Linked DNA regions of Homo sapiens. The protein of the gene in region 2 purifies or fractionates together with the protein of the main gene of each other region. This does not show direct contact. Each region holds a gene or a part of one and is shown on either strand. Other genes may lie near its edges.

Region 1 (6,855 bases), on a different chromosome or scaffold from region 2:
CTCTGTTCCTGGGATCAAGATATTTGGGAAGCCACATCCATCTTTTGAAGGAAATTTGAGCAACAGGGATCAAAGAGTGAGGATCATTCATTCCATCCCCGTAAGGGAGGGAATGGGTCAGTAGGTTGTGTAGCCAGTCCACAAATGGTCACTGTCCACCTGCTGTGTGTTGGCCTTGCCTGAGAGGTGGGGGACAGTGGTGCCACGCCATTCCCAGCCCTGGCCCCCTGGAGCCAGCTGATAGCCTGGCAGGGGAGGCACACGTTGAACAAATTATCATCCGTGATTCACAATGACAAGTGTGCAAAGTGTATCCCACAAAGCACTTATTGAGTGAGAAACACAGGTGTGTGGCCACAGAGACCAAATGGGACCCTCACAGCTGGGGCGGTGACCTTGGAGCTGAGAGTGAAGGCTGCGCAGGAGAGAGACAGGCAAAGGGGTGGGGGCAGGCATTTGCACCCCAGGGGGCTGCAGGGTGATTTGCAAGGGGAGCCCAGGTGAGGGTCCACAGGGACTAGAGCAGGCCAAGAAGGGAGGTTGGTCAGGGGTCGGCTGGAGCCAGGCTTCTGAGGGTTGATTCCCGGCTCTGCCCTCAACCCAGGCAGTTCCCCACTCTACTCATCTCTGACTCCTCCCCTCAAAGCAGGCGTGACAGCGGCACCTGCCTCAGAAAGGAGGGGGCGTGTGGGGAAAGCAGGTATTTCATGACGACCGCCCAGCATAGAGCCCTGGAGACAGTACCCCTGCCCAGGTTCCCACTGGAGCAGGCAGACAGCCCCGGCTGGGATGAGCCAAGCGTGTGTCTCCATGTGGACCCGGCCCAATGTGGGGCTCAGCACCCTCGGGTCTCCTGGTCCGGGCTCCTGTCTCACGCTTTTATGCCATCTTTTCTCAATAGGCACAGGGGACCCCCAAGGGAGGAGGCGCTCCAGACTGAAGGAGGAGAGTACCTGGCAGGGACGGGTGGAGAGGCGCAGGGACCCCAAGGTGTCCAGGGAACAGTAAGGAGATGAGTAACGGTGAGGGTCCCGTCTCCCGAGCGTATCTGTGCTAAGGGGCTGTGGGCTGGGCTTCATTCCTCTTTAGAGCAAGGCTGAGGCCAGGGCCACCTAGGGGCCAGGGTAGAAGACGTACCACGTGACAGCAGTGGCCTAGACCCCTCACGAAGTCTCACTGGGCCATATCTCCACCAGGGCATGGCAGGGACCGGTATCACCAGCGGCCCCCTGCACAGATGGGGAAGCTGAGGCCCAGGTCCCAGTCAGCCAAGCCAGCTCTTGGACCACTCAGCGGTCCCAGCAGGTGAGGCTGACCAGAGCCTGCCTGGGCTAAGAGGCTGCGTTCACCAGTGCCAGCTGTGGTTGGTCACCAGGATGCCTGAGCGCGCTGGCACAGGCCCAGGGCACCCTGCAGAGCAACCAACCCTCACCGAGATCCCCAGGGAAGGGGCTGTTGTTGGCCCATTGTACGGAGGAGGGCACTGAACCCTCAAGAGGCTCAGGGCCTCGCCCGGTCACACAGCTGGAAGGCGCCAGAGCCAGGAAAGGGACCCGGAAGCCCGACCCGGAGCCTACACCCGCAGAGGCGAAAACATCTGCGTAGCGGCTCCCTGGCCAGTGGGCCGTGGTGGGCGTGGCCGAGAGGGAATGGGGCGGAGAGAAGCCCGTGAGGGCAGGGCGGAGGCGGAGGCGGAGGCAGAGGCGGAGCGGGCGGAGCCGGAGGCCGCGGCGGCCTTGATTGGAGGCCGCCTTAAGCTCGTCATGGATGCGTTTTGACCTGGCGGCCCCGCCCCTGACCCGCCCCCGAGCCGCCCTCCCGAGCGCTTCCCCGCCCGGCCCCAGCCTAGGCCCCGCCCTGATCTCGCCCCCTCTTCACCGTCCGGCCCCGGCCCCGCCCCGCGGTGGGGCCTCCGCAGCGACCCGCGGTTAACGCTTCCCCAGAGCTTGGGCTGCGCGGCGGCCGGGAGTCGGAGGCAGGCGGTCAAGGCCGGCAGGGCCGGACCCCCTACTTGCCCTTTCTCCCAGCAGGCGCTGGACTCTGGGGGCGGGCGTGAGCCCCTCCGTCCCGCACCCAGACCCGGGCAGCGAGCCCTATGCCTGCAGTAATTGTGGGGTTTCTGGTTTTGTTTTTTCCTTAACATCTTTATTGAGACCGTTAAGTTCACCCGCTTAAAGCGCACGATTCGGTGGGGTTTTGTTGCGAGCAACCGTGGCCACTATCTAATTCCAGAGCATTTCACCTCCTTAAAATGAAGCTGGGCCCGGCCGGGCGCGGTGGCTCAAGCCTGTAATCCCAGCACTTTGAGAGGCCGAGGAGGAAGGATCACCTGAGGTCAAGAGTTCGAGACCAGCCTGGCCAACATAGTGAAACCGCGTCTCTACTAAAAATACAAAAATTAGCCGGCCGTGGTGAGCGCCTGTAGTCCCAGCTACCCGGGAGTCTGAGGCAGTAGAATCGCTTGAACCCAAGAGGCAGAGGTTGCAGTGAGGCGAGATCGTGCCATTGCACCCCAGCCCGGGCAACAGAGCGAGACTCTGCCTCAAAAACAAACAAAAAAGAAGCCGGTCCCCATCCGCAGTGACTCGCGTTTCCCTCCCCCTCCCCCGTCCCCGGCAACCGTGCATCTACTTTCTATTCCTATGGAGTTGCCAGTTCTGGCTCTTCCTGTGAATGGATTCCCATGCTGTGTATTTTCGTGTCTGAATTCTCTGACTTTCGTCTCAGCCCGCACCCACGCTGCCGCAGTCCGCGCTCGCTGCTTTTAGGCTGAACGCGGCTGCGCCGTGCGGGTGCCCGCGCTCCGGGCGCCCCTCGCAGGTTCAGCCCCGGGTTGGGGGCGGCGCTTGCCTCGCGGCTGCGGGTCCCAGCCTGAACCTGTGTCTTGTTCCACTGCCGCGGGCGCCCGCCACGGAGCTGCTGCTTCCTAGGGAGACGGTTCCATCGTTGAAGGAACGGCCAGACTGTCTTTCGCAGCAGCGGCCCATCTGACCGCACAGCACGACCGCACGAGGGTCCCGAGCCCTGACCCTCGCAGCACTCGTCACCCCGGCCGCGTGGTTGTGGCGGTCTCGGCGGGGCAGGGGGTCCCCACGCGGGCTGATTCTAGTTTCGCGTGACCGATGGTGCTCATTAGCCATATCTGTACATCTTTTTTTTTTTTTCGAGTCGGAGTTTCGCTCTTGTTGCCCAGGCTGGATTGCAATGGCGCGATCTCGGCTCACTGCCTCCCGGGTTCAAGCGATTCTCCTGCCTCAGCCTCCCGAGTAACTGGGATTACAGGCGCCCGCCACTACGCCCGGCTACTTTTTTTGTATTTTTAGTAGAGACGGGGTTATACGATGTTGGCCAGGCTTGTCTCGAACTCCTGACCTCAGGTGATCCGCCCGCCTCGGCCCCCCAAAGTGCTGGGATTACAGGCGTGAGCCACCGCGCCCGGCCCATCTGTACATCTTCTTTGGAAAAATGTGTATCCAAATCCTTAGCCGTTTTATAGTTAGATTGTCTTTTTATTATCGAGTTATAAGAATTATTTATACCTTCTACAAGGAAGTTCATTATCAGATATAGGATTTGCAAATATTTTCTCTCATCTGTGGGTCGTCTTTTCACTTTTCTGATGGTTTCCTTTGAAGCACAGACTTTTTTGTTTGGGTGCAGTGTATTTCTTACTGTGCTTTAAAGAGGAACACGTTTTAAGAACCCCCGCGCGGGGCGGAGCAGGGCGGAGTCCCCGGCGGGAAGGGACCCGAGACCTCGGCTGCGCCTGCGCCGACGCCGGCGCGTGAGCCCGAGCGCGTACCCGGCGGAGCGCGCGCCCGCCCCCGAGTGCGCCTGCGCGGAGCTCGTGGCCGCGCCTGCTCCCGCCGGGGGCTCCTTGCTCGGCCGGGCCGCGGCCATGGGAGAGGCCGAGGTGGGCGGCGGGGGCGCCGCAGGCGACAAGGGCCCGGGGGAGGCGGCCACCAGCCCGGCGGAGGAGACAGTGGTGTGGAGCCCCGAGGTGGAGGTGTGCCTCTTCCACGCCATGCTGGGCCACAAGCCCGTCGGTGAGCGCCCAGGCTGCGGACGCGCGTGGGGGCGGGGCGGGCAACCGGCGGGGCGGGGCGGGGCCTGCGCTCGCGACACCCTCGCCCCCACGCTCCCCGCCGAGCCCGGGCCGTGACACCGCCGCCACACCCGTCCCGGGACCCCCGCCCCCTCCCACGCGCCCTTCGGACCCCGCCCCGGACCCCGCCCACGACCCCTACCCCCGTGAGACCGCGAGGTCCCAGCCCGCAGTGCCCCACCCCCACCCCCGCCCCGGGACAGCCCACCCCCTCCCACACACACCACCCAGCCCTGCCCCCCCACAGCCCCTCCACACCCTGGCCCTCCCCATCTCTCCGCAGCCACCCTTGCCCCTCCAGTCCCCAGGGCAGCCCGTCCCCTCCATCCCCTTTCTCCTCACCGCTCACCGGTTATCCCGCCGCCCCTCCTCCCCTCAGGTGTGAACCGACACTTCCACATGATTTGTATTCGGGACAAGTTCAGCCAGAACATCGGGCGGCAGGTCCCATCCAAGGTCATCTGGGACCATCTGAGCACCATGTACGACATGCAGGCGCTGGTGAGCCCAACCGCCCTCCCTGTGCCGCCCGATGGGGGCACGAACCCGCACACCGCTCTCTGAGAGTCAGCCTGAGCTGGGCAGAGGCCCCTCCATGTCTGCTGGGGTCTGCTGGGCAGAGTAGAGGCCCCTCCATGCCTGCTGGGGTCTGCAGTGAGCTCTCAGGGTCAGCCTGAGCTGGGCAGAGGCCCCTCCGTGCCTGCTGGGGTCCCCTGGGCAGAGACCCCTGCAGTGAGGCTCGTCCTTAAGGAGGACATCCCGGGGCTCCAGAGCCTGTCATGGAAAGCACAAACACAGTGCTAGCAGCTGGCTAGCTTTTCAGGGGCTCTGCTTTAGACTGGGTGCTGGGCCAGAGTCTCCAGCTGAGACCCTGGGGAGGGAGGGAAGGATGCAGAGTCCCGGGCCCTTAGGCCATTGTCAGCCTCCTGGGAGGCCCCCGAAGTGCTTTAGGCAGAGGGTGACCCTATCTGAGTCACACCAAGGTGAATTTGGTGACTTCTGTGGGAGTCAGACAAGTAGAGTTCCAGTCCTCGCAGAGCTTGGAGCTGGCACTGTGTGACGGGCGAGCGGGTTAACTAGGTAAGCAGGGTGGCCAGAAGAGACAGGTGGGTGTTCCAGGCCCTGTGGCAGCAGGAGGTGGTGGGTCCAGGAGCTCAAAGAAGGTGGTGTACTTGGAGAGTGGGGTGGGGGTCAGGGGTCAGGTGACCAGGAGGAGTGGGGACCTGTGCTGGTGGAGAGTCTGTGCCAGCCACGTTGGACTCAGGGCCACACCGGCCATCAGTATGACATAGGTCTCTCCCTCTGGTCTGTGCGACCTCAGGAGGGCAGTGCCTGGCAAGCACTCTCTTCTTCTTTGCCTGGTTCTGTGCCTGTGGCGCTCCCAACCGACACCCTCGGTGTCCATGGGCTCCTGCCACGTGGATGAGAACTCGAGGTGCCTGCGGCCTTTCCCCAGGGCTGTCACTGTGCCCTCTGCATGCCGCCTTGGGGAACGCAGTCTCATGGTGAGACTGCAGGCCGTGCTGGGCAGGCGGAGCCCACAGGTGTGTGTCACCAGGGCTGCCCGGTCCTCAGGGCCCGCCTTAGTGATGCTGGCCCCGGTGGGTCTTCCTGACTCCTGCATCTGCTGCCGCTGGTTCTGCCCTCCCTGGGTCTGTCTGGAAAGCCCAGCTGTGGCAGGCGCTGTTCACAAAAAGAAGAAATGCCCTTTGCCCTTGCCCCGCCCGCCGCAGCCTCCAACACAGTGATGTGTGCTCATTGGCCTCTCCCCAAGTGGCTCTTACACGGCTCTAGTGACTTCTTGAAACTGCATCTTCACCCTTGTTTCTTAAACAAAACTCTCTATTTGATATCAGCATGAGTCTGAGATTCTTCCATTCCCGAATCCAGAGAGGAACTTCGTCCTTCCAGAAGAGATCATTCAGGAGGTCCGAGAAGGTGAGGCTCGGGAAAGGTTGGGCTTGGGATTCAGAAAAGGCCAGACCCTGGCCAAGGGCAGGGAGGTGAGGGTGAGGACCCCGGGCCTCCAGGGAGGTGTGAGGGTCCAGCGCAGACCCCGCCCTACCTGTGCTTGGGTGGTCTTGGAACCTCCGGGATTGGAGAGGACTTTGTTTGAGAGCAGTGGCTGGACGGAAGCTGAGGCCTGTGTGGGCAGCAAGCGTCGGAGCAGTCCCTGGCCTGACCATCCCCCAGCGTCGGCCACCACCGTGGGTTTTCGGTGAGCGTCAGCTGTCTCCTCCACAGGAAAAGTGATGATAGAAGAGGAGATGAAAGAGGAGATGAAGGAAGACGTGGACCCCCACAATGGGGCTGACGATGGTGAGTGTGGAGCTCACCCTGCCCTGATGCCCTTTGGGGCTCAGCACCCCAAGACTGCCTTCAGGCAGGGCACAGTCAGGTGGGCGTAGAGCCTGCGGTGCAGAGGCCCCAGGCAGGTCATCTAGGCACAGGATGGATCCTGCAGTGCCCCCTCCCCAGGAGCTGAGTGCCTGCTCCATGTTGTAGGCCAGGGTCTGAGCGGCGGTCCCTGCAGTGCCCGCCGCAGGCAGGTCCTCAGGAGGACCAGGCCCCTCTGTGGGCCCAAATGCAAGGGGCTCCCAGCTCAGGAGGAAGCTTTGGGTTCAGAGGGTCACGTGTCAGTATGCAGATTTTTTTAACTGAACAGGAAGACAAAAATAAGATTCTGGATATTCTGTTTTCAGCCAAGTGATTTTTCGTTTCTCAGTTTTTTCATCTTCAGGGAGTTTGGG
Region 2 (7,022 bases):
AGATGATGGTAGATTGGGCCAGGGTAGTAGCAGGGAGAACCAGCTGGCTATGCTGATGGATTGGATATGGCGTATAAGACAGACAATTGAGTATGAGCCTTCAAAGTGTTTTGACCTAGTGGAAGGATAGAGTTGCCTTGTACTGAGTGGGAGACAGGTTTAGGAAGGAAGATCAGGAATTCTGTTCTGGATATGCTGAGCTGGAGATCCTTAGACATCCAAGTAGAAGCATTGAGTCTGCAGTTGGATACATGAGCCTGGAGTTCTGGAGAGAAGTGGGGACTGCAGATGTAAATTTTGGGTCTTTTGGTATATGGGTGGAACTTAAGGAGTAAGAATAGAGGAGGAACAAGAATGAGCCCTGGGGGCAGTCCATTGTAAAGAGATTGGAGAGAAGAGAGATAACTAGCAAAAAAGACTATTGAGAATCAAAACTAGGGCGTCTGTGGTATCCTGGAAACCAAGTGGAAAAAGCCTTTCAAGGAGGGAGGGGTTGGATGAGTGGAATGTAAGTGATGATTGGACTTAACAAAGCAGAGGTCCCTGGTTAGTGGTTTTAGTAAGTGGTAGAACAAAAAACCTGACTGAAGGGGGTTTAAGAGTAGAAGGAGGGGAAGTAGAGGCAATGTGTTATGCCTCAACAGGAAATAAGATGGGATAATCTTTTTCTTTTTCTTTCTTCTTTTTTTTTTTTTTAGAGACAGGGTCTCTATCTGGTGCCCAGGCTGGACTGCAGTGGCACCAGCACAGCTCACTGCAGTCTTGAGCAGCCTTGAGCAGCCTTGAGCAGCCTTGAACTCCTCGGCTCAAGTGATCCTCCTGCCTCAGCTTTCCAAAGCAGGCTGAGATTACAAGCATGAGCCACTGCACCTGGTCCCTAAAATGGGAGAATTAACAGCATGTTTGCATGCTGATGAGAATGACCCAACAAAGACAAAAAATTAGTGACACAGGAAAGAGAGGGGAAGATTTGTGGAACAACATCCTTGAAAAAGCATGGGGGATCTGTGCCAAAGAGAGACACAGACATACAAAGGTGCTATCCTTGGGTCGCAATGAGATCACCAGTCCATTGATCCTATCACCTTTTCACTGTTTCAATCACTTGATATGTCCACCCTTATTTAACTAACTTGAATCCCATGGTCAGATATTACGCAGGTTCCCTGGATCATCTGTGGCTTTGGAGCACTTTGTTGGCCAAACCACAACCCTGACTAAATCCACCTCTGCCAAACGAGTGCGCCAAAACCATAATTCAGTGGACTGGTGACCTCAGTGGGATCATAGTTGGGGTTGAGGGAGTTAGCCAGAAAGACACGAGGTGGTGCGTTTTTATGTGGTGCATAAATGAGGTTACGGAGAGGTTGCAGTTGTTGGTTTAGGTTATGCCTGAGGGAGTGTCCACAGTAGAGTAGAAGTCAAACTCGCTGGAGAAGAGTTCAATAAATAGCAAAGATCATGTTTTTGTTTTTGAAGCAAGGTCTGGCTTTGTTGCCCAAGCTGGAGTGCAATAGCGTAAGCTTGGCTCACTGCAACCTCCCTTTTCCCGCTCAAGCCATCCTCCCACTTCAGCCTCCTGAGTAGCTGGGACTACAGGCTCACGCCACCACACTCGGCTAGATTATTATCTTTGTATTTTTTATAGAGATGGGGTTTCACCATGTTGCCCAGGCTGATTTCAAACTCCTGGGCCCAAGCAATCCGCCTGCCTAAGCCTCTTAAAGTGCTGGGATTACAGGCATGAGCCGCTGCACCTGGCCAGCAGCCAAGATTTAAGGCAGGAGTAGTGTTGGAGAGTGACAGCTAAACCAGGAGGTCAGTAGATGGTAGTAACAATGGAGATTGATTAGTATATAAGTTCCTGTATTAACTTGAATATATACATCCAGGAGCAGACAGTAAGGTCGAGTAAATTGTGGTCCTGCCTGATTGCTCTTAACAAGGGCTGCTCCAGTTGATACACAGAACTGCAGTAAAATAAGAGATTCTGTCTCTTTGCATGTTTCTCAACACTTGGTATTATCTTTATAATTCCAGTCAATTTGATTATCTCATTATCTTACAGTGTTTTTCGTATTATTAATAATGCTGATCATCTCGTTAGCCATTCAGTTATCCCCTCCTTGTGAATGCTGATTCATATCATTTGTCCATTTCTAAGTTTGTGTTGACCTTTTACATATTGATTTGTAGGAGCTCTCTATGTATCAGAGAACTGAGAAATTTGGATTGAAGTTTTGCTATTTTGTTTGTTTGTCTATTTGTTTTTTGCTTATGGTGATTTTTACTATGTTAGAACTTTTTTTTGAGACAGAGTCTTGCTGTGTCACCTAGGCTGGAGTGTAGTGGCACGATCTCAGCTCACTGCAACTTCTGCCTCCCAGGTTCAAGTGATTCTCCTGCCTCAGCCTCCCAAGTAGCTGGGACTACAGGTACACACCACCAAGCCCGGCTAATTTTTTGTACTTTTAGTAGAGATGGGGTTTCACCTTGTTGGCCAGGCTGGTCTCAAACTCCTGACCTCAAGTGATCCACCTGCCTCGGCCTCCCAAAGTGCTGGGATTACAGGTGTGGGCCACCGCACCTGGCCAAACTTTAATTTTTGTGCTATAATATGTGCATAAAACTTACAGATTCATTTTGAGGGTAACTGGCATCTTAATAGTATGTATTATAAGTCTTTGTTCAAGTATTTTAAGTTCTTTATTTAAGAGCTGAGATGGGAAGATTGCTTGAGTTGGGAGGTGGAGATTGCAGTGAGCCGGTGTCACACCACTGCACTCCAGCATGGGCAACCAAGCAAGACCCTGTCTCCAAAAAAACCCCAATTTTTCTATCTTTTGCTACTTTTTCCTTTTTTGAATACTATGTTGAATATTAGCAACATAATAGGCATCCTCTCTAATTACTGAGCTCTCCGATAAGTATATCATTTCTCAAACAAAAGCCTAGATTCATCTGTAATATAATGACACTCATAGGGACAGTGAGGGGGCAAAAATAGTTTTTGTCCTGAACAACCATTAATGGTGGTGCCACTTGCTAAGACAAAGAATACAGGAAGGCCAGGCATGGTAGCTCACGCCCGTAATCCCAACACTTTGGGAGCCCGAAGCAGGAGGATTGCTTGAACCCAGGGGTTCGAGACCAGCCCAGGCAACATAGACCCTCATCTATACAAAAAATACAAAAATTGGGCTGGGCGCGGTGGCTCAAGCCTGTAATCCCAGCACTTTGGGAGGGTGAGGCAGGCAGATCATGAGTCAGGAGTTCGACACCAGCCTGGCCAATATGGTGAAACCACGTCTCTACTAAAAAATACAAAAATTAGCCGGGTGTGGTGGCGTGCGCTTGTAGTCCCAGCTTCTTGGGAGGCTGAGGCAGGAGAATCACTTGAACCTGGGAGGCAGAGGTTGCAGTGAGCCAAGATCGCGCCACTACACTCCAGCCTGGGCGACAGAGCGAGACTCCATCTGAAAAAAAAAAAATACAAAAATTAGTGGGGTGCAGTGGCATGTACCTGTAGTTCCAGCTACCTGGGAGACTGAGGTGGGAGAATCTCTTGAGCACACCACTGCACTCCAGCCTGTGCAACAGAGCAAGACCCTGTCTCAAAAAAAATACAAGAATACAGGAGGAAGAGCAAGAAGATGGAATTCAGTTTTAGAAGTGCGTTTGAAGTGCCTGTGGGCTACCCAAGTAAAGACATCCAGTAGGTAGTTCTCCTTAAGGGCTAGCACAGAATGCTAGGCTAGAGGTGAAGATTTGAGAGCTCTACATTTTTTTATAGATGTTAACTGAAGCCACGGACATGCATGAGATCATTCAGGGATAGTATACGTAGAGTGAGAAGAAAAGAATGCAGAGGGGAATGAGAAGGTCAGAGAGGTAAAGGGAAAACCCGTAGAAGTAGAATGTGATGTTAACTCCCAAGGCAGGGCCCACAACCTTCTCCCAGAGAAGCCTTAAGGCCTAGGATCCTAGGGTCACAAAGGGATATTCTAGGATGTTTTGACTCTCTCTGTCTTTCTTTTTGCCAGTTGCCAGGTATAAACTCCGAATTGTTAAGCCACCAAAATTACCCCTAGAGAAAAAACCCAACCCTGATAAGGATGGTACGTATTGAGTTCTCTGACCTGTTTCTGTGGCCTGGGCTGGAGACCAGGGGCACCCAAAGCCAGTGGGCTGTGGCACACAATCTTTTGTTCTGCACAGGTCCAGATTATGAGCCCAACCTCTGGATGTGGGTAAATCCCAACATTGTGTATCCCCCTGGAAAGCTGGAGGTCTCAGGACGTAGGAAGAGGGAGGACCTGACAAGCACACTCCCCTCCTCTCAGCCACCCCAGAAGGAGGAAGATGCCAGCTGCTCAGAGGCCGCAGGGGTGGAATCACTGTCCCAGTCCTCCAGCAAGCGGTCTCCCCCTCGGAAGCGGTTTGCCTTTTCCCCCAGCACCTGGGAGGTATGCATTTTTGGGGATGGGAGTGGGACTTGGGCAGTAGGCGAGGGGCATGGGGAAGAGCCATTACAGTTCTGCTCTCTTAGCCATAGCAAAAGGTGAATGGGTTCAGAAATTACCTACATGCTTGGGTTGGGGAGAAGCCCAAATGGTGGCCTTAGACCACCCCCCCTTCCTGCCACTGCACCCTGGAGTAGAGGCTGAGGAGTCAGGACCAGTTCCTACTCTGTGCTCCTCTAGCTCACAGAAGAGGAGGAGGCTGAGGACCAGGAAGACAGCTCCTCTATGGCTCTCCCATCCCCTCACAAAAGGGCCCCCCTCCAGAGTCGGAGGCTTCGGCAAGCCAGCAGCCAGGCGGGGAGGCTCTGGTCCCGGCCCCCTCTCAATTACTTCCACCTAATTGCCCTGGCATTAAGAAACAGTTCCCCCTGTGGCCTCAACGTGCAACAGATCTACAGTTTCACTCGGTATGTGCCGGGGGCCCTGCGAGGAGGGGGAAGTGGGGGCCAGGGCCCCGGGCTGATGCCTTCCAATCCATCCCAGGCCCTGGGTTGCTGACCTGGTTTCCCTATCTGGGTCTGAGAGGACAAGTATGTTCCCAGTTCCCTTTTCCCAGGTGCATTTGTGCCCACATTGTGCCCACATTTTATGGCTTTAGTTTTTTTTTTCTTTTTAACAAGTTTTCAGTGTTCTTTGGGTATAGTTCTCCTTTAAAACATACATTCACTTGGGTCAGGTAACAGTTTCCCCACCATCCTCTGAAGATCAGCCAGTCTAAAGTCAGGTTTCCCCAACGGTTCCCACCTGCTTCTGCTAGGACTGGACTGCCTGGCACAGCTCCCTGCACCCCCAGGGGTGCAGAGAACCCAGTTGAGAAGGATTTTCCATTTAGCTCAGATAGTCCTGCTCACAGGAGGGTGAGGAAGGGAGTTTCTTGGGCCCTTTCCCAGTGTTAGGAGAAGTGCCTAATGTCTCAGGACAGGAATTTTCAAGTGGTGTCCGTCCTCAACCAAGATTCCTCTTACAGGAGCTGCTTGGCCTGATTCTGCTTTGTTCATGCTGTGGTCCAAGCCCTGGGCCCTCAGAGGGAGGGAGGGTTCAGGTGAGCCACGCACCACGTGGATGCTTTGCCACGTGCTCAGTTAGCAAAGAGCAACTCCAGGCCAACTTGCTACTATCCCCCTGGAGAGAAGGGCTAAAGCCCCTGGCCCCTGGGTAGAACATGCCCCAGAGAAGGGCATTCCCCAGACATAACATGCCTTTCCTTACCTCTCCTCCCTGTCCATAGAAAGCACTTCCCCTTTTTCCGGACGGCCCCGGAAGGCTGGAAGAATACTGTCCGTCACAATCTCTGTTTTCGAGACAGCTTTGAGAAAGTGCCTGTCAGCATGCAGGGCGGGGCCAGCACACGGCCTCGATCTTGCCTCTGGAAGTTGACCGAGGAGGGACACCGCCGCTTTGCGGAGGAGGCCCGCGCCTTGGCTTCCACTCGGCTAGAAAGTATCCAACAGTGCATGAGCCAGCCAGGTGTGAAGACTTGTTGTGCGTGGGCCCAAGGGGAAGAGACCTGAGGATCCTGACCCAAGGCCAAGTGTGGAAGCCTGGGTCACACCGTGGGGGTGGGGGAATGCATCTTCTATAGGAAACAGGGAGATTAACAGTGATCTGAGACCCTCAGGTGATGCCTGCCTGAGGTGAGACCTCCCCCACCAGTGTGGGGCGTGATGTGCCAGGAATCCATGGGCAAACAACTAAGGGGCAACTGGCCTTACCAAGACCAGCAGTCTAGGCAATAGTGAGCACACAACATGAGAAGCACAGTTAATAGAGGTTATGTACAAAGAGTACTTCTACTTTCCCTGGAGCAGTGCAGGGAGGCTTCAGAGAAGAGGCAGCATTTGAGCCTTGAGTGAAAGAAGCAGATGACCTGCTATGAGAGAGCATCCCAGGCCTAGGAAACAGCAATTGTGAAGTATAAACTCCTGAACTCTCTCCTTTTCTTACAGATGTGATGCCCTTCCTCTTTGATCTTTAACCCCAAGAAGCAACAGCCAGCTAATGCTTTATTAAAATTACCCTCACTAGCCTTCTGTGTGTGTCTGTGGAGGTGGGGTCTCTAAGGATGGGGTTAAGGGTGGAGGTGGAGATCAACTCCAAGGTTGGAGATGGAATGCCTTCAGCTTACAGATGCTCCTGAGGCAATGGGGCAGGTGCCTGCCGTGCAGCAAAGGGAGTCCGTAATTTTCTTTCCTCAAAGGAGGAAAATGCACAGCCTTCTAAAGCATCTTGGAGCAATTTCCATTTTTCTGGATTATGAAGATAATCTTGGCTGGATGCAGTGGCTCACACCTGTAATCCAGCACTTTGGGAGGCTGAGGCAGGAGGATCCCTTGAGCACAGGAGGTCAAGGCTGCAGTCGGCCATGATCACACCACTGCACTTTAGCCTGGGCAACAGCAAGACTCCATCTGTAAAAATTATTCTGGGAGATGCCCGTTTGTAGCAGCCAATTCTGTAAGCACCACACATTCATTCAATTGATACTCCTTAAGTGGCTAC

The links.
Region 1: the proteins of FOXR1 (region 2) and MRGBP purify together in Homo sapiens (affinity purification with mass spectrometry; 4 studies listed by BioGRID and IntAct, with this or other methods). This does not show direct contact.

The regions. Positions count from the first base shown.
Region 1 is NC_000020.11:62,792,626-62,799,480, forward strand, and holds the start of MRGBP (MRG/MORF4L-binding protein), read left to right. Parts: upstream 1-3,847; 5' UTR 3,848-3,898; coding exon 3,899-4,046; intron 4,047-4,484; coding exon 4,485-4,606; intron 4,607-5,961; coding exon 5,962-6,043; intron 6,044-6,227; exon of another isoform or gene 6,228-6,349; coding exon 6,350-6,424; intron 6,425-6,830; coding exon 6,831-6,855.
Region 2 is NC_000011.10:118,974,739-118,981,760, forward strand, and holds the end of FOXR1 (forkhead box protein R1), read left to right. Parts: intron 1-4,043; coding exon 4,044-4,118; intron 4,119-4,218; coding exon 4,219-4,466; intron 4,467-4,703; coding exon 4,704-4,930; intron 4,931-5,751; coding exon 5,752-5,990; coding exon of another isoform or gene 5,991-6,034; exon of another isoform or gene 6,035-6,118; intron 6,119-6,469; coding exon 6,470-6,498; 3' UTR 6,499-6,549; downstream 6,550-7,022. UniProt on the Homo sapiens protein: Transcription factor which acts as both an activator and a repressor.